Linked DNA regions of Homo sapiens: regions 2 and 3 are each linked to region 1. Evidence: fine-mapped expression QTL. A gene starts in region 1. Each other region holds a variant in brackets. All regions are shown on one strand. Distances are from middle to middle. Region 1 holds the start of KIAA0319L (KIAA0319 like). Region 2 overlaps KIAA0319L (KIAA0319 like). Region 3 overlaps KIAA0319L (KIAA0319 like).

Region 1 (7,988 bases):
CTCCATGAGGGCATAGCAGGCGGTCACCACATCCTCTTTCACCTCCGTGCCCGTCTCCTCCAGTGCCAGCCGCACTTCCACGCACGCCAGATTCACCAGCAGGGCCAGGAACTTGCTCCCGGAGCTGCCCGCCGGGATCCAGTCGGAGCCGCAGGCGTGTGCCAGGCGGGCTGCCAGCTTCAGTGCAGGGTTGCGCTGCCAGGAGCTCAGCTTGCTTCCCAGGATGCGTGCCAGCCCGGCCTGCAGATCCCGGTAGCATTCAGGGGGCACGGTTGTCGGGGGCAAAAAGAGGGGCAGCAGCTGGCAGAGCTCAAACTTGCTGGCATCCTCAGCTTTCTGGAAATCCTCACTGAGGCCCCGCAACACGGCCAGCAGGTCGGGCTCCGCCTCCTTCCAGCACTGTGTCTCGGCAGCAGCCAGCAGCCCCACCAGGAGTGCCAGGGCCTGGTCAAAGCCATAGCCGTGCCCCAGGTATGCCTGGCATAGGGCAGACACGGTGCCACCAGCAATGAGGTGCCGAGGCCCTCTGGGTGTGCCTGCTACAGCCGTCAGGCACTGGTAGGTGTCATCAATCATGGAGCGGCGGGCAGCATCGTCCGGGTCCCCCCGGGCTGTGAGGAAGGTGCTAAGAATGGGAATCTTGTTCAGGACTTGGGGATGGGCGGCCAGTTCAGGGTCACTGCAGAAGCAGGCCAGCAGGGCCACACCCAAAGCCCGCAGAACATGGTCAGGGCAGCCATCCGGCGCCTCCTTGGTGGTCAGGAGACGATTGGGGAAGGTGAAGCCGACAGCATCGAAGATCCGCCGCCGAGTTTTGGCATCTATGTCACCTGCTTTGACTGCCTTGGTCACCTATAGGGGGTATGTGCTATCATCAGGATGAAAGGAAGAAGTGGGAAAGACTGTCCCTCTCCTGCATCCTGGGGCACTGAGGACTAGCAAGATGAGGTTATGCAACAGGACTCATCTGAGGTCATTTCATCCAGCTCCTTTTTTCTCCTTAGAGGCAGATAAATGTGACCTCTGGGATCCCTCTCATCTGTGACTGTCCCATGGAAGTGAGGTCTAGTCTTCCTCAACCATTCATTTGAGCATTTCAACACCTGGCCAGTTGAGAAGTTCTTCCTGATGTCTAAATGCCCACAACCTGGGATGGAAGGGGCTTAGAACTCAATGTTTTAAGATCTCCCAAGGATTTAAAGTCCTTCCTTAATTGCTCCCTCCAGAGAAGTCCCTGATCCATTTCTGCCACCTTCTCAGGGGAAATGGCTCCTGTGTCTCGCCGCTCCGCCTGTCAAAACATTTCCCCTTACATTTCACCTAAACACCTCCTCTGCTGCAGTGTGAGCCCTTGACTCCAGAGCCTTCTCCTTGTTGCCATGGCAAACAAGCAGCGGCTGTACTCCCTCCTCCCTTCACCCCCCACACACAACCCCCCCTTCCTAGCACTGCAGCTTCTGCTCTGCTGTCCCCAGCTTGGGTTCCTCCAAAAAGGCTAAGCCCCAAACTAGCTCCCATTCCTTAACCTACCTACTGCCATCCTGGCCTTCCCCTAGGACCCCTCCCCAGCCACTTCCAGCCCTGCTACTCTCTCCAGGCCCAGAACAACCATCCCCAGCCCTCAAGTACTCTGCACTAGTTACTACCTGCTGCTGTTACCCTATGAGTCAGCTTCCATCTGCTCTGGGACGCCCCAGAAAACAGACCCAGGCAGCCCCTAGTGCCACAGCCTTATTCAGTCCCATTCTCCTCTTTGCCCCCATTCTCAGGGGGAGCAAAAAAGAGCACAAAGGTAGGGGTCTTGGGCCTTCGTTGGTGCCTCCAGGGTTGCTAGCACTACGTACATATCCTTGGGGACTCACTGACCCCATTCCTTGGGGGCCCAACCACCCAGCCCTTCCCACCTCCCAATTTTCAGCCAGTTCCTTACTAGCAGCAGGGCTGCAAACTGCTCGCTGTCATTCTTGGCCTCACGGAGGGCTCCCAGGTAGCGCTCCAGGGTGGGGTTTCGGCCCTCTGCCTGGTTCAGAGCTGGCTCGCAATCCGAGGCCATGATGCTCGCCTTGCCCAACTGTGAACACAAGAGGGACTGAGCATCCCTCTGCAGAGGAGGGACGGGGGTGGGGTGGGGGTGAGAGTGGAGGATGGAGGGAGGGAGGGATTAGCACAGAGGGAGGGGAGGAGAGAATCTGGAGGGGTGGACTCCTCAGGACTGACCTCCCCCCAGAAGCCCCTTTAAGGGGCTGGATCTGCAAATCCTTAGGGATAAAGAAGGGACCCTGGTCCAAGGTCACCTCCAGAAAGCGGGAAAGAAGGACCATGCATGCTGCTGCTCAGCCGGACAGCTCTCCTCACCAGTCTCCTGGGGGTGGGCGGGAGCTGGCCCCACTGCTCAGCTGTCCCCCTGGCACCGGAGGCTGGGTTTTATCTCCCTCCACAGGGACACAGAGGGAGTGAGTGGTGAGGACAGACAGGGAGAAATGGAGACATACATGGGTGAAGTTCGATTATCCGGACTCAGGCTGACATGGGAGAAAAGGACACCCCAGGCTTCCTTTCCCCTCCCTTCTTCAGAGGCAGAGATACGCTTCAGAAGTGAGAATACAAGACGCTCAACAGGGAAGGCTTGGAGGCCCCTTTGGGGACCCCACCCCTCCAGCCAGGGCTCTCAGTCGCCCCCGCAGGCTCCTTGCCTCCTCTCCTTTCCCTCCCTCGGGTAGAGGCTGCAGCAGCAGCAGCAGCGGCGGCGGCAGCAGCAGAATTAACCCCTTGCGCTCCCTCTTCTCGCCCTCCCCGTCCCGCTACCAGCCTGTGGATGCCGGCAGGGGCTGGAGAAGCAAGAGGGGGTCCCGGATAGTTCCCAGGACAACGGAGAATCCAAAAGCCGGATAATCGAAGCAGGGCTGCTGAGATGGGGAGATGAGAAGGGGAGGAGGGTTCCTGGCGGTCACCACCTGTCCCGCCGCAGCCAGGTCACAACACGACATTGATGAAGTCACGACAGGGCGGCGATGAGATCACACTTCACGATGGCGCGGTGATGTCACGGAGAGATCACGTCAAAATCACGACATGGGAGACAGCCCCCAAAGATGACAGGGCAAATTAAAAAAAAAAAAGATATATATTGAAAAGGGCTGTGACAAAATGGAGTCTCGACAGGGCACGATGGTGTCGCGATATGGCGCGATGGAGTCGCGATAGGGTCCCCGGGGTGTGTCGGCATCGATCAGCGCCGGCTCGGAGAGGCCCCGGCTGGGATGCAGGGGAGGGCCCGAAGGGGGCTGAGCTCACCAGGCTGCGGCCCCGAGCGGCGAAGTCTTCTCCCAGCGCGATGCTCCGGGAGCCTCGGGCCGCTGCTCACGCCGCGTTGCCCACTCCTGGCTCCAGGCTGCTGCAGCTCCACCCCCACCCCCGCACCGCTCTTGACGAATCCGCGGCTGCTTCACTCCGGGCTCTGGCCAATGGCAAGTCAGGGTGCTAAGCAGTAGGGGGTGCCGCCGTTGCCGCCATCTTGCTTGTGGGTATTGCCCGAGTCTGGGGGCTGGGGCTCGAGCGAAGGAGGCAAGGTGCAGACTGCCTCTGGAGAGCGGGCGGCGAGAGGCTGGGGGCCCAGATTCCTTCGCTTGTGCGTAGTTTTACCCGCCCAGCACTGCCCCTCCTCCCCCTTGGTCTCGCGGCCGGCATTGCCCTTCCCGGGGGAGGGGCGGGAGGGCTTGGTTAGCATGGAGAGTGTGTTTCCGGGTCGGTCCCGGGGAGGTGGGAGGAGGCGGTGTTTCCGGCCGCCGTCGCTGTCCAGGGAGGCTGAGGCGAGAGGTAGCTGTCCGGGTGGGGAGCCCGCACTACCTTCTTCCTCTTCCTCCTCCTCCTCCGGGTGAGGGGAGCGAAGGTTGGGGGTCCCCGAGCCCATGGACCAGGAGGAGGCGGAGGCCGCCGAGAGCCGGGGCCCCGCTATGTGGCCCTGAGCCCCGGTAGGTGGCCGGGGGCGGCTGGCTGCCAGGCCGAGGACCATGGGCTCAGGGGAGGGGCAAGCGGGACGGGCGATGTCAGCGGCTGCGCTGGCCGGATGTTGGGTCCGGAGGTGGCGCCCCTGGCTCGGCCAGGGCAGCCAGCTGCTTCTGTCCTTGCAGGTGCGCAGCTTGGGTCCCAGGCTGAACCCCGCTTCTCTCGGGCCTGGGCCTAGTCATGCAGCTCCCTCCATCCCCTGAGAGCCAGGCAGACAGCCGGGGTTCGGGGCGCTGCCGTCCTTCTTCCACCTTCGACCTCTGCAGCCTAGTCTTTAGTTGCTGTCTCTGATGTTTGGTCTCTCCACCGAGATAGAAAGTTGGTGCAGAATGAAGAGGGGATGGGGTTGAGCACGATGTGTCCATTATAATGTGAAACCTGCCTCATCCACGATTTTGAAAATTATGCCCCACAGAGGGTCCTGTAGTGGCTGCAGTGAGCACAAAGGTGAAATGAAGGAAGTCAAAATTGATAACCTCTGGCGGGATTCCAGGAACTCTTTGGCTTCTGGTCTCATAGTGGTTGTGTCCAACTGACAGTAGTTGCAGTTAGTGAAGAGCATTAGCTGACTCTCCTTGTGCTCTCTCCTGTGATTAACAGACTGAAAACTAGGAACAAATTGGAAAGACGACCTCCCAGAACAATCTGTTCATTTTTCCAGCTATTTGGAAAACAGTGTCTGCAAATATAAGCAAAGCTATTCATGGCAGTCTGTTCTGTAACTTTCCCAAATATCTGAGACTTTTTAAAAAAGAGCTTTATTCTCGATTACTCATACCAACTGAATAGATTGTTTCAGACGTGCTCCATCGTTGTTCAAACATATCTTATCGCTGTGTACATAAATGGAGTTCCACGTATGTAGTTGACAGACTGAACTGTGATACATCCCCCATCAACCTGAAGTATTAAGTAAACATTACCCCCTGCTCTGTCTGAACAGCTGCTGCAACAGAGAGTGCTTTTATTTTGGGTGTACTTGTAACGCCCTAAATGCCAGAACTATTGTGAGCTTCTCTAGATTTTCATTTGTCAAGTATTGTGGGGGTGTGTGTTCTCTCCCTGGGTTGTTACCCTTTGATTCAGTAACAAACTATTCGGATCTTGGTGATGTGTTGTTGTTCTTGCGTTTGGTCAGCAAGCCTTTAACTGGACCCTAGCAGTGATTTGTGCCCTTAGGCAATTATAGGTTTCAGAGGAATGACTGGTTAGGAGTTCAAATGAAATTAACTCTGCCTTTCTCTTAGACGCAAGATTTATTAGACATGGCACTTCTAATCAGCTTGTTAGTCCAGTGGTGTTTATTACTCCATTTTTCAAAAGCTATTCATTTCTTTTCTGCTTCTCCCACCCACCTGTCAGGCTATTGATGACAGCTGTTGAGTCACCTTGAGTTTTAAATCCTTTTGTGGTAGGCAGAAATGTGTTGGGTAAGATTCATACACACCCATACATGCACACATGCATACTCACTCGTTCCCTCTTGGGAGGCTAGAGAAATTGCTGGATGTACTTTCTAACTTAGGCTCCATTTCATAATCTCTTGAACATGTCTCTGGCCCACACACCTCCTTTCTGCCCCCTGCTCCCTGAAATACAACTACAAAACAACTAGAAATAGGAATGGATGGAAGTGAATGAGAACGATGAAGTCCTTCAGATGCATGTGGTTCTGCAAAAGCCTTTTCTTGGGTGGGCTGCACCTTAGTTTTGCAGCTGTGTGTATGTCTGTGGCTGTTTCTTGGTATTAGTCAGTATTGGTATCCAGCCCAGGCAATGCTGATCTCCCTGTATGCTGGCCGTGGATAGGAGTTAGGGGTTGGCAGCCTGTGTCGTTTGCTGGATGTAGATGACAGGTACATAGTTGGACAGAAGTTTTTGAATTGCTTCTTCAGAACTCAGTCAACCCTCATAATGTTGCCAATATTTACGTACTAATTTAGACAATATAGCAAAGTTTTATATGAGGGGAGAAATTTATGGTAAATGAGTTTTTCTGCTGGAAGAGACCTAAATAATCCAGCCCCTAGATTCTGGAGTAGCCAGCATAGTGCCTGACGTAAGTATCTGTTGAATGCAGGGATTGGGGTGGGTAGCATTGAGGTGTAAATTGAATAGATTTTCATGATAATAGTGGTGGGCGGAGACAGTAGCAGACTGGAGAGTGCATGCCCTGCCTAAAGACATTTGCATTCAGAAATTTAAAAAATACTGGGCCAGACATAACCCTCAGGTTACTTTACCTCTGAGGGTGCAACCTCTTCTCCTCAAAAGTAAGAAAGTGTGTTTGGTCAAAGTCACAAAGCTGTTAGTAGCAGAACTGCAACTAAAACTCAGAGATCTTCTTGTCTGCGGGCTGGTACTCTTTCCATTCTACCACATAGGTGATTTACTGTTAGATTAAAAAAAAAAAAAGGAATATAAAGTTTCAGTTTTCAGTGGATTCATTTGATATCCCTTGCTGTGTTGTTATTCTGATAATTATAGGCTACCTCAAAGCCCAGGTTTAAAATTTATAGGCAGGGTTGAGCCGTTAAAGACAAACTTGAAATTTTTCTTTCCCCTAATCTGTCATATTTTCTAGCATTCCACATTTCCAGGAATTAATTATTAATTACTCGGCATGTAATTTCTTCTCTTTCTGTCCTTCTAGTGTACTGGTTCTGCCTGTCTGGAGGGCCATGGAGAAGAGGCTGGGAGTCAAGCCAAATCCTGCTTCCTGGATTTTATCAGGATATTATTGGCAGACATCTGCGAAGTGGTTGAGAAGCCTGTACCTGTTTTATACTTGCTTTTGCTTCAGCGTTCTGTGGTTGTCAACAGGTACTATTTTCTTTATAGATTTAAGATTTTTTTTTTTAGAAAAGGGCATTTTATGTGAGTCCCTCAGTTCATTTTAAGGACTATTAGGAGGCAGAAAAAACAATCTGCTAATTGACAGAAATGGTCATCCTTTTGGTGACTGAGGTCTGTTGGGTTTATTTATTTGTTTTGTTTTGGAACCAGAGTTTAAATTGGATTCTTTTTCATAAGGGAGAATTGGCACAACCGTTTTAAGACTTGATAAAAGTCAACTGGGTATTTCCACTTAATGACTATAAAACCTTGAGCAAATTACCTATTATCTTTGAGGAAGGGTTATTATCTACCTCATGGTTTGATTTGAGGGATAGTATAATTAAAGCATGTAGCACAGCACTCAGCATGGGTGCTTAGTCTTGCTATTTGCCCAGGCTGGTCTTGAGCTTCCTTTCCTTTCCTAAAGGAATCTACACTTATGGGAAAAATGCGTTCCTTACTTTTTCCATAGAGAGGGGCTATGTTGATAGATTTTTTAGACTATGCTTTCCTCCTAGAGATTATTTCACCAGGGTAAAGCCTCTTGCCAGGAATCAGTGCCAAGAAGGCTAAATTTCAAAGGAGAATGCCCTTTCTTTCTTTCTTTCTTTCTTTCTTTCTTTCAAGTTCTTTTGTTGATATTGTGCTTTCATAGTATGAGTGTGAGAAAACAGCAATATGAGAAAGATTTCTGTGTATGCTGCCATTCTGGCCAGTGACCAAAAACCTTCTGCTGTAGAGACCACCATCTGGGATAACTAATCAGCCTTTTTCCCTTATAATTACAAAGATTTCTGTTGCTTTCCTAAAGGAATTGGTGGTCATGATTTTGAGACCCTAGTAATTATTGTATTTAGCAATTTCAGTAACATCAGCTTTGGGGTTTTTGTTGTCTTGCAGTGATGGTTGATGATTGCATAATTATAGCAGTGGAAGTTGTACTTGACAGAAAGCTGATCTACATGGTTTTTTTTTTTTTTTACCCCAGATGATGCTTTGCTGGGACAGCTGACTATTTCAGGTCAACATTTTATATAAGATCATTAGAATTAAATAAGTAATTGATTTAGCACCATCAGAATAGGGAAAAATCACTTCTTTAAAAAAAAGAGATGGGGTCTTGTCACCCAGGCTGGAGTGCGATG
Region 2 (7,988 bases), 120 kb after region 1:
CTGCCCAAGCTGGGAGCAGCCCAGACCTCCCTCCCAGCCTCTCCCTCCACAGCCCTCACCATTTTGATTTTCTTGGCAGAGTGGAGCGTGTTATATGTTATCATTGCTACCTTTGTCATTGTTGTTGCCTTGGGAATCCTGTCTTGGACTGTGATCTGTTGTTGTAAGAGGTAAGATGGATTTTCCTTTGAAATTCATTCGGGCTTCTTGTCATACATTCGTTCCTCAGAGAGGTATTTGGCACCTTCCACGTGGAAGGACTGGGCTGGGTCCTTAGTCAGCATTAGAGAGTTCTGACCCACCTAAGGCATGCACGGGCAGCTTTGCTCACCCTGAGACTCTCCTGAGGGCAGAGGCACACTCCTTCAGTGAGTGGCAGCCACTGCAGTGATTTGGAACCTGGGAAACATGGCTGGGCGGGAGCAGGGCAAGGTGGGGGAGTGAGCGTGAGGGCCAGGGGTACAGACCCGGATCACATCTGTAAGGTGTGTTTTCTTTAATGCACCACACTGTAGCCTCACCAGCATAGCCCGCGAGTTTTTAATTCTGCCTTCTTTCTAGTTGGGATTCATGAGTGTGCATGTTTCCACACATGCACTTTAGGCTAGCCAGGCTCAGGCGTCCTGTGTTTTTTCATTTGAGTCTTCCTATTGAGTCTTCTAAGATGGAATGGTTACATTTATTTTATGTTTTCATTATTAATAATATTATTTCTGTGTATACTGTGTGCCATAATATTTTTATAGGTAATATCATTTTTAAGACACATAACCTTTTCCCATTTTACAGATAAAAAAACTTAGGCTCAGGAAAGGTACATCACTGTCTGAGGACCAGTTGATAGTGACAGAGCTGAGATTCAACTTTCAGTATAACCTCTTATAAAACTTAGAACTAAAGGAATTTTTAAAAATTCCCACCAGTCTAAGACAACCACCATTACCAACTTTGTTAGTGTAATGCCTGTCTCCTCCCACACCCTTCAAGCAGAGGATTTTGTTTTCTTTACGTTTTTAACCAATCTGTCCTTCATTGCCCCTGTGGGATGGTGAGTCCGTGCCAAGGTGGTCATAGCTCCCTTGCCCTTCTCCAGAATTGCTGAGGAACATTTGAGGAACAAATCACAGTTGCCACCTTTCCTGGCTGAGAAGTGAGGAGAGGACACCCCTCTCAGTAGGTGCCCCACCAAAATAGGGCCCTGCATGCACATCTGGCTCTCATCCTCATCCTCCCAGAGAACCTCTTTCCTGAGCAGGGGTGGGGGTTGTGTTTTTTAGGCAAAAAGGAAAACCCAAGAGGAAAAGCAAGTACAAGATCCTGGATGCCACGGATCAGGAAAGCCTGGAGCTGAAGCCAACCTCCCGAGCAGGTAGGGGCCCTGGGTGCCAGAGCTTCTAGGTCTGTGCACTCTCTCTGTGGAAGGCTGCTGTCACTAGCCCCTCCTGAGTGTGTCACTAACAGCCCACTGTGCTTGCAAAGCATTTTGTTCCCTTTTGCCTGATGAAGACTGAGGGTCAGATTTGCCCTGAGCTGCACTGGACAAAATGCCTCCAGGACCCACTTCGCGTGCTACTTCCGCTTGGCGGGGGTGCTGGGCCTGTTGTTTTCCTTTGCCTGGGCATTCTCCTCATGTTTCCCACCTGGAGTTCCGCTTTTCCAACTGCCCCAGGTAGTCAGGGTCAGGGACCTTGGACTTGTCTCTTACTGCTGACCAGTCTGTGCTTTATGGGCAGAGATGAGACCCAGGCCCGTGTCTGCCAGCTGACCACCTTTCAGCCAGCCTTGTTCTCCTGTCTTCCTATCTTTATCATTTGGCAAGTCCTCAGCTTCTGTCAGTGTCTTAGGGCAGATAGGAGGGCATTTCCTTGCACAAACAGTAAGATGACTTTGAGTGATGGCACTGGGAGATCAGGGCAGGTAGTAGGCCTTCCTTCCTCCGCTGGGCTGGGTCACCTGGCGAGGGTTTCACTCATCATGGATGCCATGGGACAGGTATCATTGGTTTATGAGAGCTAGACTCTATAAAGCGATTCCTAAACACTCTGCAAGTAGAACTATTTTTATATAAAGCATTTATTAAACACTTTTCATGCTTAAAGCTTTGTGTTAGGGAGAGGCTATGGGGGTATAGGGAGTCATCAGACACAGGCTGTGCTCTCAGTCTAGTGAGGGAGAAAAGACACACAGTAGCAGAAGAGAACAGGCTCACAGCAGTCTGGACTCTGCACCAAGCAGCTCGATCCACCAACACTGTCAAGGTGGAGACTGGAGGTGGTGGGGCTTGAAATGAGCCCAGGAAACCAGAGCAGTGAGGGCGGGCGGGGCATTTCACCCAGGAATATTGAGAATGAGGGCCTGGAGGTGAAATGTGCAAAACCCACCCCTCACACTGCAGCCAAGGTTTTTATCATGTTACTCTGATCATGTTTTTCACCCCCTGACATTCTTCAATGACTTACTATTTCTAGCACAAAAAGCTAGAACTTTTGGTCTGGTAGATGTGGCCTTTGTGAGCTTACATCAGTTTGCTTTTCTGGAATCTTTCTCTTTGCTGATCTCCCTCTTTTCTAAACAAGTTCTTCTGGTTCATCCAGTAATCTCTTTCTTTTTTAAAAATGTGGCGACAAGGTCTTGCTCTGTCACCCAGGCTGGAGTGCAGTGGTATAGTCATAGCTCACTGCAACCTCCAGCTCCTGAGCTCAAGTGGTCCTCCTGCTTCAGCCTCCCAAAGCAGCTGGGACTACAGGCATGCACCACCATACCCAGCCCTAGAAAGCTCTTTCTTATCCCTCCCTTAACCTCCTCAAGTTGTGCTCACCTTTCTCTCACATGCCTGGGTCGGCATTTCTCTCGCTGTCTCATGATTAGTTATGTTTGCCTGTCTCCCCACCCATCAGTGAAATCCCTGAGGGCAGGGGCTGTCTCATTCATCTGTGGATATGGAGCGGGACCACTATGTGCCAGGCCCTGTGCCAGACACTGCTTATATTGTGGTGAATCAAACGGACAGACTTCACTCTTGTGTAGCTTATGTCAGACAGACATTAAGCAAACTCACAAATACATAAAATATGCTCATAAAAGGCCTTTATGAAGAAAAACACTTAAGCTGAGACCTGGATAAGTGGGAGCTAGCCAGATAAAGCTGCAGGAAATAGCATTCCAGGCAAAGGAACAAAACTGGTGCAGACCCAGCTGCTAGAAGGAGCAGAGAGCATTTGAGGAGGTAGAAGAAGGTGACATGATGGACAGGTTCACCTTCCCACAGAGTAAGGGGTGAGTGACCCAAGGCTCAATGGATGAGCAGGGTCCCTGCTGAGGACTTCTCTTGAGTACAATGGGGAGCCACTGATAGCTTTTTAAGGGGATGAATGGTGGGATTTGGTTTACATTTATTATTATTTGAGACAGAGTCTCACTCTTATCACCCAGGCAGGAGTGCAGTGGTGCGATCAAGGCCCACTGCAGTCTTGACCTCCTGGGCTCAGGTGATCCTTCCACCTCAGCTTCCTAAGTAGCTGGGACCACAGGCATGCGCCACCATCCCCAGGTTTTTTTGTTGTTGTTGTTGTTGTTTTGTATTTTTGGTAGAGACGGGGTTTCATCATGTTGCCTAGGCTGTTCTTGAACTCCTGGGCTTAAGTGATCTGCCTGCCTTGGTCTCCTAAAGTGCTGGGATTATAGGTGTGAGCCATGGCACCCGGTCTTGGTTTATATTTTAAAAAGACAACTGTGTAGCTGGGCGTGGTGGTGGGTGCCTGTAATCCCAGCTACTCGAGAGGCCAAGGCAGGAGAATTGCTAGAACCTGGGGGTGTGAAGGTTTCAGTGAACTGAGATCACTCCAACCTGGGCAATAAAGCCAGACTCTGTCTCAAAAAAAAAAAAAAAAAAAAAAAAAAGATAACTGTGGCTGACAGATGCAGGGGTTGGAGGGGAAAGGCTAGCTGAAAGGAAGTTAGATAGAATGTCCTTGGGGTTGAGAGGCAGATAGATTCTAGATACATTTTTGAGGAAGACTTGATGAGGTTAGTGGTCTGCTGGCCAAGGCGTGTGGGAGAAGGGAGAAAGGAAGGATGGCTCCCAGC[T/G]TCAGCACTGAGCCTCTGTGGGTTGGGTGGTGGTAGTATCCCTGAGATGGGAGAGACTGGAGAAGAAATGGTGGAGATCAAGTGTTTGGTGCAAGACAGTTATGAATGGAGTTGAGGGAATGAGAATGAAAGATTGACAAGGCCCAAATTGTGAAAGTTTGACTATCAGCCTGCAGAGTTAAACATTTATCCTGGTGATGCTGGGAAGCAAAGTCTTGGATAAGCTGGTTTAGGAAAATCAGTCTGGTGACAACATATAATAATTGAAGGGGAGTGGCTACAAGTGTGGAGACCAGCAAGGAGATTTTTGGTCCAAGGAGGAGCTGACAGTGATTCACACAGCGTGGTGTCAGTGGGTTATAGCTAGGTCTGGCAAGGTCAGGGCTGACTTCCAACCGAGAGATGGAGAATGATAGTGCTGTTGACAGAATCAGAACCTCTGATGCAGTGACTGGGTAAGAGAAGATGAATTAAATGGAACTCAGCAGAAGAGTCAGACATGGAACTGTAGAAATAGGAATCTCCCATCTGCTGGTGAGGATCAGCACCACAAAGGGTCACATCCCTTATGGGGGAATGTTGAAGGACAAAAGAAGAGGCCTAGGGTTGAGGACCCCAAGAATGACCATCCAGGAGGGAGGAGGGGATTCATTAGGGGACAGCCGTCGGTGTTTGCTGCTGCAAAGGCCAAAGAATCAGAATTGATAGCACCAGAGAAGCTCCTGGCCCATCAGAGAGCTGCAGTAGAGTGGGGAGTGACAGTGGAAGTGAAAGCGCAGGTGATTTAGAAAGCGCAGTGAGGAGATGAAGGCCCTGAATATTTAAAAATCCTTTTAGAAGCTGAGCAGTGAAAGCTAGAGAAGCAGGATGGCAGGCAGAGGGCAAGGGCCTCCTCTTCCTCAGAGAAGGGCTCATGAACAGATCTGTGGGTGGCAATGTCGAATGCAGGTAGAGGAGTGGTGCGTTGGAGAGGTGCTTCCTGACTGAGGAGGAAGGAGGGAGAAGGGAAGAGAGGAGAGAAAGGGAGCATGGAGTTCAGATGCCTCTTCTGAGGCAGGAGGGGAGAAACGGGCGGTGATGGCCCGGAGAAGTGCCGCGCTGCAGAGGTGAGATTGGATGGGAGCCTGAGCTCAGCACATCGGACATCTTAGGGAGAGGGGAGAGCCATGGGGTGTTCCAGTGGCATCTAGGTGACCAAAACCAACAACGTGCGACCAGGTGAGGGCAGCAGGGCTGGTCTCTTGTGGGCAGTGTCTACCGAAGGGAGCTGGGAGAGCCCGCTCAGGTTCGGTGTGGGTCTGAGCAGGCCGGAAGCACTGGTTCTTGTTCTGGGCTCAGTGGGTTAGCAGGTCCAGCCTAGAGTAGAGTCACTAGGAGGACGAGGAGAATGAGATTCAAGACCATATGGTGTCAGGTATGGAACTGAAGAAGTTTAGCTGGAAGAAGGGTAAACTGAGTGGGTCCGTTGGGGGGAAAGAGGATGTGTGTGCGCGGGAGTCTGGACGGACAGTTTGCCAGGAGCCAGTTTAGGCTGAGGATGAACAGTAACTGAGGAAGGAGAGCAGTGCCACCTGGTAAGTGTAGGGCTGCCCCCCTCAGGAGGCCCCCTTTACATTCAGCAGCTATGGCTTTGTTTTCTCTTGTTGCTGTTGTTTTTTGTTGTTGTTTTTGTTTTCTATTGATTTTTTTTCTAAAACTTTCTATTGAAGTATATTAGGTTGAACCTAGGCTCCTGTCCTCACTGCTATAGCCAGAGGGGCTTTGGGAAGGAGGCAGCTGTGAACAGGTGGGTATTTCAAGGGGTGAGGCAGGGCCTTTGGAGGACCTGGGCCCTTGCCAGGGCCCTTTCCACTGTCCCCACCACACTGGAGATGTCCTGGCGGTCAGTGTTCTTCTGTGGCCCTGCTGCTCCGCTGCCCGAAGACTCAGTAGGAGAGGTTCAGTCAAGACCCAGAACTGTAACCCTGACACCAACGCGGGTGAGGAAGCTCCCTGCCCAAGCCCCAGAGCATGTGGCACAGGCACAGCTGTACATGGACAAGGTCCTTGGGCGCATGTGGTCCTGAATGGCAGGCGCATCAGGGTCTGGATGCGCTCAGCCTGGAGAGCTCGGGGCACTGCCACCCTTAAGTCAGGTGTGGCCAGGAAGGGCTGAATGGCTGGGAATCCTCTCAAGGCACTTTCAGTATGTGAGGGAGATCTGGATCCTTCTCCCCGGAGAAGGGAGAATGATTATTGGATGATGAGATTGTGGTGCTGGAGAGGGCTCTCCCCTCTCCCTAAGATGTCCACCCCTCACCTGACTGGTTACCTTTTTTAGAAAGGAGGGAGGTTAGCTCCTGGGCGTGGGCATTCCCAGGACCCAGAACACTGCTGAGGGGGTGCCACCTGTTGGCAGCTCCCACTCTAGTCCTGCTATCTCAGCCTGCTGTTTGTTTTCTCTGGAGTTTTTGCACCAGCCAGAGGGCAGCCATCTTTGCTGTTGGAACTCTTCTTATCAGACCACATTTCATGTCTGTGGCCGCTCGGCATCTATAGGGATAAGTAGTGAAGGGACTGCCATGGCTTGCAGAATCGCAGGTGTCTTCTTCGACCCCAGGTGCTTCATACGGTTCTTGCTTTGTGTGTTCTGTGATTTGGCTGCTTGGGACTGCTTCTGAGAGTCCCCATTTCAGTCAGGCTCTCCCAGCAGGAGAGACCTGTCCAAGTGTGCACCTACTCTGCCACCCTAGCATCCAGTGAAGCCACAGCAGACAAGAGCCCACAGAGCAAATGTCTACATGGACTGAAACTGCACACTCCTGCTGTGCCAGCACTCAGCGGCCTTGCTGACCTAGGGTGCAGCTAAAAGCTCATTCTCCAGAGCCTGAGTTCTTTGTGCTTTCCTGCCTACCATGTCATTCCACCCATAGAGGGAGGTGATAAAATATTCCAAATTTGAAAGGTAAAGAAAAGAGAATGTCACTGAGTGGCCTGAACCAAAGCTCATGGATACTGGAGATGAAGAACCAGCAGGAGACCCCAGGTGTGCTCTCATCCGTACTCTGTGACACCCCTTAGTGGACTGTTCCAACCAGTTGGGCCCGGGAGAAGGACTAGGGAAGCTTCCTTCCCATCTGCACCTCCCAGCCTGGAGAGGAGCCTGTGACTTGCCCTGTTCCTTGGCTCCTCAGGCTGGGGTAAGGTGTGGGGGTGGCTCCAGCCTTGAGGCCAGTCTCCTGATGCTGGATTCCTTGTTTTCCCTGCAGGCATCAAACAGAAAGGCCTTTTGCTAAGTAGCAGCCTGATGCACTCCGAGTCAGAGCTGGACAGCGATGATGCCATCTTTACATGGCCAGACCGAGAGAAGGGCAAACTCCTGCATGGTCAGAATGGCTCTGTACCCAACGGGCAGACCCCTCTGAAGGCCAGGAGCCCGCGGGAGGAGATCCTGTAGCCACCTGGTCTGTCTCCTCAGGGCAGGGCCCAGCACACTGCCCGGCCAGTCCTCCTACCTCCCGAGTCTGCGGGCAGCTGCTGTCCCAGCATCTGCTGGTCATTTCGCCCTGACAGTCCCAACCAGAACCCCTGGGACTTGAATCCAGAGACGTCCTCCAGGAACCCCTCAACGAAGCTGTGAATGAAGAGGTTTCCTCTTTAAACCTGTCTGGTGGGCCCCCAGATATCCTCACCTCAGGGCCTCCTTTTTTTGCAAACTCCTCCCCTCCCCCGAGGGCAGACCCAGCCAGCTGCTAAGCTCTGCAGCTCCCCAGTGGACAGTGTCATTGTGCCCAGAGTGCTGCAAGGTGAGGCCTGCTGTGCTGCCCGCACACCTGAGTGCAAAACCAAGCACTGTGGGCATGGTGTTTCCCTCTCTGGGGTAGAGTACGCCCTCTCGCTGGGCAAAGAGGAAGTGGCACCCC
Region 3 (7,988 bases), 68 kb after region 1:
AGCCGCCATGCCAGGCCTCCAATACAGTGTTGAATCCAAGTGGCGAAAGTCTACATGTTAGCTGTAGGTTTTTTGAAAGCAACAAGTCTGTAAGTCAGCTATAAGTCTGATGTTAGCTGTAGGTTTTTTGAAGATACCTTTCATCAGCTGTAGGGAATTTTTCTATTCCTAGTTTGATGTGAGTTTTTATCAGGAATAATTGATGGATTTTGTCAAATGCTTTTTCTGCATCTATTGAGATGATTTTTTTTGTTTTTAGTATGTTAATATGGTGAATAATATGATTGATTTCAAATGTTAAACCAACCTTACATTCCTGGAGTAAACCCCGCTTGGTCATGATATTATTATTATTATTATTAATTAATTTATTATTTTTTGAGACAGAGTGTTGCTCTGTCACCCAGGCTGGAATGCAGTGGCTTGATCTTGGCTCACTGCAACCTCCACCTCCTGGGTTCAAGCGATTCTCCTGCCTCAGCCTCCTGAGTAGCTGGGACTACAGGCGCATGCCACCACACCCAGCTAATTTTTATATTTTTAGTAGAGACGGGGTTTCACCATATTGGTCAGGCTGGTCTTGAACTCCTGACCTTGTGATCCACCTGCCTCAGCTTCCCAAAGTGCTGGGATTACAGACGTGAGCCTCCGCGCCCAGCTTGGTCATGATATTATTTTGATGTATTTTTATATTTGATTTATCAAATTTTTGTCATGAATTTTTACATCTGTTTATTGGCTGGCCTCATAGAATGAGTTGAGGAGTTTTTCCTTTTCTTCAGTTTTCTGGAGGGTTTGTGTAGAATTGGTATTATTTATTCCTTAAATGTTAAATATAATTCTCCAGTGAACCATCTGTACTTCGAATTTTCTTTGTGAAAAGTTTTAAACTAGAAATTCAATTTATGTGATAGATACATTGCTATGTAGGCTGTCTCTTTCTTCTTGAGTGAGTTTTGGCAGATTGTGTCTTTCAAGGAATTTATGCATTTCATGCCATTAGTCAAATTTATTTGCATAAAGTTCATTATAGTCTTTTACTGTCCTTTTAACATCTGTAGAACCTTTAGTTACATTGTCTCTCTCATTCTTCATATTGATCATTTGTGTCTTCTTGTCTCTTGCTCTGGCTCTGGCTCTTGCTGTCTCATTTCTCCTGATTAGACTAGTTAATGTTTCTCAAAGAACCATGTTTGGTTTTATTCGTTTTTCTCTATTGTTTTTCTGTTTTCTATTTTATTGATTTCTGCGCTAATCCTTTTTTTAAAATATTACATTTAATATTTTCCCTGTTTAAACAAATCCAAGTTGACAGGTTTATTTTTTTGCTTTCAGTACTTTCGAGATACTGTGTCAATGTCTTCTAGCTTGCATTGTTTCAGTTGAGATATCTGCTCTAGTTTTTATCTTTGTTCCACATATATCATGTTTCTTTTTTCTCTGGCTGCTTATATAATTTTCTCCTTACCACTGTTTTAAGCGATTTGATTATGTTATTCTATGGCGTAATTTTATGTTTCATGTGCTTGGGGCTTGTTGAACTTTAATCTGGATTAGAATGTGGGTTTATAGTTTTCTTCAAATTTGGGAAATTATTGACAATTATTCAAATATTTTTCTGTCCCTCTCCCTTTGGGACCAATTGAATTTATTTCACAGTTTGCTGATCCCCATTCGTTTATTTTCAGTCTTTTTTCGTCTCTGTGTTTCATTTTGAGTAGTTTCTATTGAAATTCTTTAAGGTTACTAATCTTTTCTTCTGCATTGTTTAATCTGCCATTAAATTCCTACAGTATTGCATTAGTCTGTTCTCACATTGCTATAAAGAACTATGTGAGACTGGGTAATTGATGAAGAAAAGAGGTTTAATTGACTCACAGTTCTGCAGACTGTACAGGAAGCATGGCTGGGAAGCCTCAGGAAACTTACAATCATGGTGGAAGGCAAAGGGGAAGCAGCACAATCTTCACATGCAGGAAAGAGAGAGAGTCAAGTGGGAAGTGCCACACACTTTTAAACCATCAGATCTCATGAGAACTCACTCACTATCATGAGAACAGGAAGGGGAAATCCACCTTCATGATCCAGTCACCTCCTACTATGTCCCTTCCCCAACATTGGAAATTACAATTCAACATGAGATTTGGGTGGGGACACAGAGCCAAAACATATCAAGTGTATTTTCTTTAATATCAAACATTGTAATATTTATATTAAAAGTTTGATATGAGGTCTTTTTTATGTCTTATAACCTTTCCTATAACTTCTTAAACATAGAAATATAATCATAATACTTATTTTAATATCCCTATCTACCAGTTCTGTCATCTCTGTTATTTCTGGATCAGTTTTAATTGATTTACATTTTTTTTCTCATTATAGTATTTATTTTCCAGCTTCTTTGCATGTCTGGTTATTTCAGATTAAATGCTAGACATTGTAAATTTTACCTACTGGGGTGTTGGATATTTTTGTATCACTATGAATATTCTTGAGCTTTGTTCTGGACTGTGGTTAAATTATTTGCAAACAGTGATACTTTTGAGTCTTGCTTTTAAGCTTTGTCATGTGAGTCCGGAGCTGCATTTAGTCTAGGGTTAATTTTTCTATCCTACTAAAGTAGGACTTTTATTAGTACTTTAACTGATGCCCTATGAATTACAAAGTTTTCCATTCTAGCTTTGTGGAATAGGTACTATTTCTTAGCCGTCTAAACTTGAGTACTTTTCTCTGTAATCAAGAGAACTACAGGGCAGCCTAGGCAACATGGCAAAACCTCATCTCTGTAAAAAGTACAAAAAGCTACTTGGGGGGCTGAGGTAGGAGGATTGCTTCAGCCTGGGAGGTCGAGGCTGCAGTGAGCCAAGATCGCGTCATGGCACTCCAGCCTGGGTGATAGAGTGAGACCCTGTCTCAGAAACAAACAAAAGCCAGGCATGGTGGCTCATGCCTGTAATCCAGCAGTTTGGGAGGCTGAGGCGGGCAGATCACTTAAAGTCAGGAGTTCGAGACCAACCTGGCCAACATGGTGAAACCCTTTCTCTACTCAAAATACAAAAATTAGCCGGGCACAGTGGCAGGCGCCTGTAATCTCAGCTATTTGGGAGGCTGAGGCAGGAGAATCGCTTGAACCTGGGAGGCAGAGGTTACAGTGAGTGGAGATTGCACCACTGCACCCCAGCCTGGGTGACAGAGTGAGACTCCATCTCAAAAAAAAAAAAAACCCAAAGAAACAAAACAAAGAATACAGGTTAGTTTTTCCCTGACCCTCTGTAGTTTCTCCATATACATCTGATTATCAGTATTCCCTTGAGTACTTAAGGGGGTCTCCTTCAAATTTTCAGAGTTCTGTCTCTGTATAGCACTCTTCTTTCCCAGACTTCCAGTTCAGCTCTTCAACTCAGAAAGACTGCTGGTCTGTGCTTGGATTTCTTCTTCCTGTGCCATGGCTCAAAAACATTTTCTAGACAGTAAGCTGGGGCAATCATAGGGTTGATCTTACTTGTTTTTCATTTCTTAGGGATCACTGTTTTTTATCACCTGATGTCTGGTGTCTTGAACGCCATTGTTTAATATATTTGGTCTGGTTTTTAAATTTTTTTCAGAAGGATAAATCTTCTTGCTGTTACTTCTTCTTGACTGGAACAGAAAGTCCACCATGTTTTTTTTTGTTTTTGTTTTGTTTTTTTACCTTGTGGCATTCACCTACCTAACTACTACTTAGTCTTCCTAGGCTTTACTTCTTTTTGAAGCCTTCTCTGATATTTACTTCCCAAGTTTGGACCCAGATGCTCTCCTAAATATTTGCATAATACTCAACTCTATCATTAAGTTTTCAGTCTCAGAACTTGATGCTCATTGTTCAAACTTGATACTTGCAAATATGTCCTTGATCTTGTCTCCTTGCATCTTTAGCTACCATTCGTTTGTCTCTCTTCCTTTTTATCTAGAAATATCAAAGGTAGTCTGCACTTGCTGTCTCTTCTTTATTCACTTACATCTAATCCTCAGCCATGTGGAATTTGGTTTCCACTGAAGCTACTCTTGCCAGGGTCACCAGTGACTTCACAGTTGCTGATTGCAGTGTATTCTTTTCAGTCTTTATTTGATTGGCCCCATCTGCATTATTTCATACTGGTTGCAATTGTCCCTTCTTTCTTTGGGGACCACACATTCCTGGTCCTTTTCCTTCTTCCTGATGATTCCTTCTTAGTCAATTTTGTTGGTCCTTTTATCAGCTTACAGCCTTTGTATTCCTAAATGTTCTATTCTTTGATTACTATTTCTTTTATTTACATGTTCTTCCTGTCGTAGTTCATCCACTCCCATGGCTTTAGGAGC[A/G]TGATTCCAAATCTTAGTTTCTGTTTCAATTTCCCAGAGGTATTTTAGCTTCAATTTGTCTAAAACATAACTTCCTGTAATTTCCTTAAAGTTGCTCTTCTGTAGTCTATTTCGTTTTTGATACTACTGTAGTCAGTCCCTCACTCAGGCTAGAAACATGGGTGTCATCTCAGACTCTTCCCCAAACCCCAGATCTATTACAGCTCCATAAATATTAGATTCTTAATATTTTAAAATCCATCCCACAGGAGGAGTTTCCAGTAATGGTGGCAGAGTGAAGTAGTCTCTGAAACCTTCCCACAGATAATATTAGAAAATCTGTAAACAAATGTATTAAAAGATACTGGAAAGGTTCCAAAAGCAGATAGAAGCTAGAGGAGCGCTTACTTTTGAAAAATGGCAACTGGGAGTGAAAAGAATTGTGAATTTGCAGCTTAAAAAAATTTTTTCCTGAGGGCATTCAACAACTCCCACAGCAGAGGAAAGTGGCAGTGGAAAACTCCAGCCTTACTTTCTTATGGTGGCAAAAACAGAGTTCATGATAGAAAAAGCATCTGAAAATTTAGCAGGAGGGCTTGAAAGTGAGAAAACCACAGAAGAGGGTGACCCCCATAACCTGACTGTGAACTCTGCTAAAATCCCTGGATGTACCTCTAAACTACACCTGCATGGGCAGACTCCATGAGGCCTGCTGAAAAAGCAGGCAGAGATTAGGGAGGCAGAGATTAGAGTTCTGTCTTTGAAAGACAGAATCTACACAAGGTGAACTTCGTAAGTTTGCTGCTTTTTAAAATTGAATGCATTCTCCAACCATGGGGAACCAGGTGGCAGATATATGAAGTCTTATGGACTTGAGGTGTCAGTGGACGTAATCTTAAGGCTGAAAAGTTAGGGAGGAATCCCCAGAAACAAAGACAGTACAATGAGAACAGGCCCCAAATCTGAGTAAAATCTCTGGCCAAATTCTTGGTCAATTATCAGTTACACAGGCAGACCTGTAGTGGCCAGGCTGGGCGTGGTGCCTTACGCCAGCACTTTGGGAGGCCAAGGCAGGTGGATCACTTGAGGCCAGGAGTTAGAGACCAGCCTGGCCAACATGGCGAAACCCCGTCTCTACTAAAAATACAAAAATTAGCTCGGTGTGGTGGTGCATGCCTTTAATTCCAGCTACTAGGGAGGCTGAGGCACGAGAATCACTTGAAGCCAGGAGGCAGAGGTTGCAGTGAGCTGAGAAGATCACACTGTTGTACTCCAGCCTGAGCAACAGAGCAAGACTGTCTTAAAAAAAAAAAAAAGTTGTGAGAACTACACAGAGATATCAGTTGTTGAACACTGTAAGGAGCAAAGTCTACAGTTCAGTCCAGGGAGGTTATTTGTCTACTAGGAAAACCTCCCCCAGTAATCCCAAGGAAAATATAGTAGAATCCAGAGTCACTACATGTATCAGAATGTCCAACGTTAAACCAAAAATTACCAGACATGCACAGGAACAGGAAAGGGTGATCCATACGCAGGGAAAAAAAGGCAGTCAATAGAAGGTGGCTCCAAGTTGACTCAGATGTTGGAGATAGTAGTCAGACTTCAAAGTAGCTATCATATGTATGTTCAGATAATTAAAGGAAAATGTTTGTTTTGTTTTTGTTTTTTTGGGTCTCATTCTGTTGCCCAGGCTGGAGTGCAGTAGTGCTATCTTGGCTTACTGCAGCCTCAAACTCGTGGGCTCAAGCGATCCTGCCAACCCAGCTTCCTATGTAGCTAGGCCTACAGGGGTGTGCCACCACTCCCAGCTAATTATAATTTTTTTTTTTTTTTTTTGTAGAAATGGGGTCTCGCTATGTTGTGCAGGCTGATCTTGAACTTCTGGCCTTGAGCAATCCTCCCACCTTGGCCTCCCAGTATGCTAGGATTACAGGTGTGAGCTACTGTATCGGGCCAGAAAATAGTTTCAATGAGTAAACAGATGAAGAATTTCAGAAAAGAAATGTTAAAAATGGGAAAATAGAAACAAGAGGGCTTACAAAATGGCAGCAAGAAGGGATCTGTAGTTTTCGTGTAAAAAACAAGTATAAAACTGGGCAAAATTGTTAAAACCAAATATTTTTAACATATCTAGAAATAAAATAGAAGCAGAAACAAATTGAGAAAAACTTATTCTTTTTTTTTTTTTTTTTTTTTTCTTGAGACAGGGTCTTACTCTGTCATCCAGGTTGGTGTGATCATGGCTCACTGCAGCCTTGACTTCCCTGGCATGAGCCATCCTCCCACCTCAGCCTCCCAAGTAGCTGGGATTACAAGTGCGCACCACCACGTCCAGCTAACTTTTTATATTTTTTGTAGACACGGGGTCTCACTATGTTGCCTAGGTTCTTGAAAAACTCGTGGGCTCAGGTGATCCTCCTGCCTCGGCATCTCAAAGCGCTGGCTTGAGCCACCACACCCCAGCCTAAGAATTTATTCTTAAAAGGCTGGTAATACTTTGAGTAGGTACAGTGGAAGTCTGTGGTCTTCTTGGAATGTTTCCCATCTGTCCTTACCTCCATTACTCAGCTCTGGTGACAAGAATTGTAGTTTTACCAGTGTGTGGCTGAACATGAAAACTAATATCTTAAGGAGCCAGAGTGCAGTGGCACATGCCTGTAATTTCAGCTACAGGGAGGCTGAGGTAGGAGGACTGCTTGAGCCTCGGGAGTTCCAACCAGCCTGGAACTCAACATAGTGAGACCCCGTCTCAATTGAAAAGGAAAAAAAATAAATAAATAACACTAGCAAATTTTCTGCCAGAGGGGGTAGACTTAATGTGGGACAGGTGAAAACTCACAGCTTTGCCAACTAAAAGTGGCAAACTTGGTTGAGAATGAATGGAGAGAATCCACAGCTTTGCTAGCTGAAGGTTGCAGTGCCTGTTGGAGTAGATGGTGGACCTGCCAGAAACTAAATGGGAAGATCTTGAAAATAAGAGAGCCATAGAAGGGCTACGATAAGCTCTCCACATATCTCTGGCTGATAGGGAAGTTACCTGCATGTGCAGGAGGGACCCAAGGGAACCCAATAAAAAGTAAAAATTAAAGGGGACTTGAGAACTGGCTGTAACTTTGAATGCATTCCTCAGGCAATATACAGATAGATTGGCAGATGGCAAAGCTTTATGGGTTTGAGGTCTATGAGCAACCCCTGCCCAGATCATTGTCTGACTACTAAATGATGCAGGCATAGGCTGCCCTAGAAACCCAGGCTAAAATAAAAACAAGAAAAAAAAACCGAGCAGAGCATCAGTCACAACATACTATGGGAGAATTAGATTTTGCAGTTTAAGTATAGGCAAGTTATTAAAAACAATAAATAGCCCATCAGGTAAATAAAACAATCGATAGCTACTCCAGTAGATTATCTGAAGCCTCTAGTTTTCAACCAGATATTATAAGACATGCAAGGAAAAATCAGGAAGGTGTAACCCATGCTCAGGGAAAAAAAAGTCATTAATAGAAATGATTTCTGAATAGGCCCAGCTATTAGATTTAGCAGAGACTTCAAAATAGCTGTTAAAAAAATATGGGAAGGGGAATATCACACTCTGGGGACTGTGGTGGGGTCGGGGGAGGGGGGAGGGATAGCATTGGGAGATATACCTAATGCTAGATGACACATTA

The links. PIP is the estimated chance that this variant, and not a neighbour inherited with it, causes the effect.
Region 2: its variant is fine-mapped to the expression of KIAA0319L in whole blood (TOPMed, PIP above 0.99).
Region 3: its variant is fine-mapped to the expression of KIAA0319L in whole blood (TOPMed, PIP above 0.99).

What each region holds. Positions count from the first base shown.
Region 1 is chr1:35,553,190-35,561,177 of GRCh38, reverse strand. KIAA0319L (KIAA0319 like) reads left to right here and starts at 3,775. Exons shown (of 21, transcript NM_024874.5): 1 at 3,775-3,971; 2 at 6,659-6,828. The coding sequence starts at 6,687. It overlaps NCDN (neurochondrin), which reads right to left and starts at 3,379. Exons shown (of 7, transcript NM_014284.3): 1 at 2,955-3,379; 2 at 1,931-2,071; 3 at 1-852. The coding sequence starts at 2,987. RefSeq lists enhancers at 347-981, 1,438-2,163, 3,542-3,601, 2,891-3,617, 3,618-4,345 and 2 more and silencers at 2,551-2,760, 3,832-3,971, 3,982-4,081.
Region 2 is chr1:35,434,428-35,442,415 of GRCh38, reverse strand. It overlaps KIAA0319L (KIAA0319 like), which reads left to right. Exons shown (of 21, transcript NM_024874.5): 19 at 80-170; 20 at 1,278-1,369; 21 at 7,335-7,988. The coding sequence ends at 7,522. Among named protein-coding and RNA genes, the nearest start is that of ZMYM4-AS1, 72 kb to the right of the region's middle. The variant T/G (reference allele first, on the strand shown) is at 4,087.
Region 3 is chr1:35,484,906-35,492,893 of GRCh38, reverse strand. The region is part of intron 3 of KIAA0319L (KIAA0319 like); the gene reads left to right. Among named protein-coding and RNA genes, the nearest start is that of KIAA0319L, 69 kb to the left of the region's middle. The variant A/G (reference allele first, on the strand shown) is at 4,342.